Linked DNA regions of Homo sapiens: region 1 is linked to region 2. Evidence: fine-mapped expression QTL. Tissue or cell type: whole blood. Region 2 holds a variant in brackets; the other region holds the start of a gene. All regions are shown on one strand. Distances are between the middles of the regions.

Region 1 (2,802 bases), 38 kb after region 2:
TTAAAGAAAAATATTAAGTAAATAGAGGTGCAAGGATATGACAAAAATGGAAAGTTTGCTACTCATTAAATCATTTTAATATCCAAGATTCTTCCCAGCTCAGTTATTCTGTAGTACATCAGATAGCAAAGAAAATTTTAAGAAGGAACTAGTATCAGCAATATGCAGTTATGGCAGAAGCTGTACCCCCAAAATCAGAGTGCTGGACGTCAGCAGAACCCCTTTAACTTCATTAAGTCCTTGACTCTCTTTTTTGACCACGGTGTTTGCCTGCTACTAAAATCTCTAGGGCAGGAGCACGGTGACTTCTATGTCACCATCCCACCTACCCCATGCCACATTCTCCATCAACAGCCCCGCCCCTTGTCCCTGTCTCCCTGGTGACACATAACAAAGGCCATCAAGCTCCCAAATCTTCAACTCCATCCTCTCCAAGAAGGACCCCAAAAGCATTTGTGTCCCAGCAACTGTGAACTTTTCCAGGCTGCCAGACAGAAGTTTATCTAATGGTGGTCAAGACCTGCCTGGTTGAATACTAGTAAAAACAATCCTTATTCACAATTTATTGCTATATCTACTTCATCTTCTCTCCTCCACAAGATTTTCCTTTTACTTTTAAAAGAGGATGCATGAAAACTTCATAAAGTAGTTTGCTTCCAGACTAAGAAGAAAGGAGGCTGGGTGTGGTGGCTCTGCCTGTGATCCCAGCCCTTTGGAAGGCCGAGGCAGGCAGATCACCTGACGTCAGTCGTTCAAGACCAGCCTGGCCAACACGGTGAAACCCCGTCTCTACTAAAAATACAAAAATTAGCCGGGCGTGGTGGTGGGTGCCTGTAATCACAGCTATTAGGGAGGCTGAGGCACAAGAATGGCTTGAACTCGAGAGGCAGAAGTTGCAGAGAGCCGAGATCGTGCCACCACACTCCAGCCTGGTGACAGTGGAGTAGGCCACATGCATCTGTGGTCCTGAGTAAATGCCCTTGGGCCCATTTTCAAAAGCCTGTTGGGAGAAAGCCTGTTACTCCTCCACTGAGAGTCTCAGACCCAGCTCAGATGGAGACAGGGAGAGGTGCAGGTGGATCAAGCCCAAGCTCCGGACTTCCCAGCTACCTCCTGAACCTCATCATCCCACAGCTCCCAAAGGACCCCAGTTACCTCGGAACAGCTCCAGAAACTGAGGGCTGTTTGCTCAGCGCCCCAGCATCTGTGCAGAGCACCGGAAAAGCTCACCAACTGTTTCACTTCCTGTTGGGGTAGGTTTTATTTCCCTCCAGTGTGCACCAGGGATCCAACTAGAGGCCGGGGAGAGGGGCTCTGCAGTGCTGAGGCAGCCAGAGTGGCAAGTGTGTGGCTTACATGCATGCTTGCTGTGTGCATCTGAGTTTGATGTGGGGGGCTTGTGCGCATGTTCATGTGGGTGTTTGTGTGTTCGTGTGTGTTTCGGTTTATGTGCATGTGGGGTTTGTTTTTTTTTTTTTTTTTTTTTTTTTGTAGACAGAGTTTCACTCTTGTTGCCCAAGCTGGAGTGCAATGGCGCAATCTCAGCTCACTGCAGCCTCCGCCTCCCGGGTTCAAGCAGTTCTCCTGCCTCAGCCTCCCGAGTAGCTGGGATTGCAGGCGTGCGCCACCATGCCCCACTGATTTTTTGTATTTTTAGTAGAAATGGGGTTTCACCATGTTGGTCAGGCTGCTCTCGAACTCCTGACCTCAGGTGATCCGCCCACCTCGGCCTCCCAAAGTGCTGGAATTACAGGCGTGAGCCACCATGCCCGGCCGCATGTGGGTTTATTTGTGTTGGAGGGAGGGTGTGTGTGTGTTTGTGTGTACTGTGTCTTTGAAAGGTCCACAGCATGTTGGTTTTGGAAACAAGCACCGCAAAGAGGCACTCCAAAATCTGTTCATGAACTCTGGGAAGTTCTCCTTCCTCAAAATGTGATTGTGGACTGTGGGGCAACCCATTAGACAGAGAGTAAAAAGTAGCTATAATAAAATATATGTTTTAGGGGGGAAATCAGGGATGCGGGGACAGGACAGTAGAGGGGGCAGGAGGTAGGAGACAAGAGCTGGGGTGTGAAGAGGACCAGCAAGAACAACGCTCCAAGGGACAAGTGGAGCAGACAAGGCTCCTGTACCCAGGACGGTCAGAGTCAGACCTCGCTTTGTAGCTGGCCTTAGCACTGTAGCAGTGGGGCCTCGACCAAGTTGTTTCAACTCTCTATACTTCAGTTTCCTCATCTGAAAATGTGGATAATAAAAGCACCCACCACAGAGGGTCCATTGTCAGAATTAAAGGAAAAACACATGCAAAGTACCTGCCACATAGAAAGCTCTTGATAAATATTAGCCATGACTATTCTTAGAAGTAACTATTGGGATGCCTCATCCAAGCCAATTAGAAATGCAGACATGGGAGGCTACACCAGGGACCTCCATGTCACATGCATGGTCTAAAGACTCGATTGCACCCCACTCCTCCCCAGTCCCACTCAAATCTACCCCCAAGACCCCAAATCTACCCCCAAAAGCCCACGGCAGTTTCAGTTCTGCAGCTCCCATACATCTGGAGCCTTGATGCTCCTTTTTGTCATTTTCTCCAAAAAGTACCAAGGTCATTCATTTAATAAACAGGAAGAAATCCCAAAGTGAAAACACAGAGGGGTCAGGGATTCCCTCATCAAGAGTTCAAGACTAGGCTGGGCTCAGTGGTGCATGCCTGTAATCCCAGCACTTTGGGAGGCCGAGGCAGGTGGATCACAATGGAAGGGGTTCGAGACCAGCCCCTACTAAAATACAAAAATTAGG
Region 2 (2,666 bases):
GATTTAATTTGATCTTTTAAAAGTCATTCTAGGCCAGGCCGGGTGGCTCACGCCTGTAATCCCAGTGCTTTGGGAGGCCGAGGCGGGTGGACCACGAGGTCAGGTGTTCGAGACCAGCCTGGCCAACATAGTGAAACCCCATCTCTACTAAAAATACAAAAATTATCCGGGCATGGTGGTGCATGCCTGTAATCCCAGCTACTCAGGAGGCTGAGGCACGAGAATCCGCTTGAACCCGGGAGGTGGAGGTTGCAGTGAGCCGAGATCGCACCGCTGCACTCCACCCTGGGCAACAGAGCGAGACTCCATCTCAAACAAAACAAAACAAACAAACAAAATGTCATTCTACACTGTGAAAAATGAGCTGGAGGAGGCAAAGGGAAGAAAGGGGAGATCAGTGAGGAGGCTGTTGTCATAGCTCAGGCAGGAGTATGGTAGCTTGGACTTGGCAACAGCGTGCAGGTAGAGCACCACCGCTGGAGTCTGGATGCGGGATGCATTCTGATGTAGGGAGTGGGGGACCGCGCAGCATCAAGAAGCCACCGCTGGAGTCCAGATGAGGGATGCGTTCTGATGTAGGGAGTGGGGGACGGCGCAGCATCAAGACTTGCACTGAAAATTTCTGCTTTGAGCAACTGCGTGGAATGGATGGAGGTGTCCTTCACCAGCTATGGGAAAGGCCAGGGAAAGGTTTAAAGGGCTGAGTGTGGTGGCTCATGTCAGTAATCCCAGCACTTCGGGAGACTGCGGCAGGAGGATCACTTGAGTTGGAGACCAGCCTGGGCAACATAGCAAGACACTCTTTAGAAAAATTAAAGTAGAGAAAAAGAAAGGTTTAAAGGGAAGAGACTGAGGGTTCAGAATTGTACCTCATCAGTTTCTGAGATTCCTGTGAGCTCTCCAAGTGCATAAATAAATGTGGGAATCATTAACAAATAAATGGTATGAAAAAGCAAAGGAATGGATGAGACCACCCAGGAAAAGTGTACAGAGAGAGAAGAGAAATAAAGAGGAGAGAGTTAAAGAGACCAGAATAGGCCAGGCATGGTGGCTAATGCCTGTAATTCCAGCACTTTGGGAGCCAAGGGGCGAGTGGATCACCTGAGGTCAAGAGTTGGATACCAGCCTCGCCAACATGGTGAAAACCTGTCTCTACTAAAAATGCAAAAATCAGCTGGGTGTGGTGGCACATGCCTATAATTCCAACTACTCGCGAGGCTGATGCAAGAGAATTGCCTGAACCCGGGTGGCGGAGGTTGCACTGAGCTGAGATCGCACCATTGTACTCCAGCCTGGGCAACAAGAGCAAAACTCCATCTCGAAAAAATACAAAAATAAAAAAATAAAGAGACCAGAATAGAAGAGAGCCCAGGACTGAGTCCTGAGGAAACAGCACAGAGATCAGAGAGAGGAGAAGACTCTGAAATAGGGAAACTGGAAGAAATGGCCAGAGA[C/G]AGGAGAAAACCAAGAGGGTCAATGTCACTGTGGCTGAGAGAGAATATTTCCAGAGGATGAATTTGCTCAGCCAGCCAAGTGCTTCTCACAGGGTCGCTCCATACAGAGGCCATTGATTTCATGGGCACATGGAGCTGATTCAAGAACGAGTGAGAGGAAGTGACAGCGTGTGCAAGAAGACAGCTTGTAGAGGGCTGGCTAGCTTCTCCTCACTTTGTAGCCACATCTGCTATGAACTTATCCCATCTCTTCTTCCAGATTTCCATGAAAGTATTTTTCTCACTCTCCAACAGGGTACTGTACCTGCAGGAAGAGGAGGAGCCCAGGTCAGCCTCAGGGCAGGGGTTGGGGAACGGGGCAGGGAGCCTGAGAGGACATTAGAGCCTTGCAGAGCACTCTCCCCAGGCCAGCAGCAAGGACTAAACAGCCATGATGAGAAGGAACCCACAGGAACCATCGAGGCATCTGCCTCAAGCCTCCAGAGAGGCAAACACAAGCTGCGGGCTGGAAGGAGGCGGGGGACCTGGGAGGACACAGGACACTCACTTGATAGAGTTCATGGCCAGCTGTTTGAGGGTCCTCAGGTCAGCCTTCATCCCCCCAATGCCCATGAAGACCTCATAGAAATCATAGGACAAGCCTTTGGCACCAAACATAGCTGGGTCATCAGAGCTGATCACCATGGGGTGCCCAGTGGCCATCAGAGTGGCTACAGGGTGGTTCCTCAAGTCAGACACCAGTTTCAGCACCTGCGCAATAGGAGGGAAGGGAGAAAGATGAACTCTGATCCCTAAAAAGAGTAGTCACAAGTGAGGTGAGACCTTGAGCCCCATCAGCTCCCTTCATCTTCCCATCACTATCTCCCCAGTATGGGGATGACTTCTGGGCAGAGTCACAAGGAGACATAAGGAACAGAGCCAGTCCTTATGCTCCTCCTCATGTTTCATCAGCACTGCAAACATCGGGTCACTTCTGTTCCTGCTCAGAGAAGCGCTAACTGAACACAGACACAAAGGACCCCAAGAAACCATGGGGAGCAGCATCCCATGGTCCGTCCCACTTCACTGGCCTCCCCCCATGTCCTTTTTGCTTTGTCTACAGTCTTGCCCAAAATTCCACCCCACTGGGGACCCTCACTGCTGCCTCATTCTTATTGGTGGCTTAGGCAAAAGGCCCCTCCTGAATAACTTTACTAACAGGGGTAGGAGAGT

The links. PIP is the estimated chance that this variant, and not a neighbour inherited with it, causes the effect.
Region 1: it holds the start of ADA2, and the variant in region 2 is fine-mapped to the expression of ADA2 in whole blood (INTERVAL, PIP above 0.99).

The regions. Positions count from the first base shown.
Region 1 is chr22:17,218,201-17,221,002 of GRCh38, forward strand. It overlaps ADA2 (adenosine deaminase 2), which reads right to left and starts at 1,235. Exons shown (of 10, transcript NM_001282225.2): 1 at 1,156-1,235. RefSeq lists enhancers at 612-972, 813-882, 893-1,022.
Region 2 is chr22:17,179,819-17,182,484 of GRCh38, forward strand. It overlaps ADA2 (adenosine deaminase 2), which reads right to left. Exons shown (of 10, transcript NM_001282225.2): 9 at 2,002-2,204; 10 at 1-1,758. The coding sequence ends at 1,665. Among named protein-coding and RNA genes, the nearest start is that of HDHD5-AS1, 22 kb to the left of the region's middle. The variant C/G (reference allele first, on the strand shown) is at 1,455.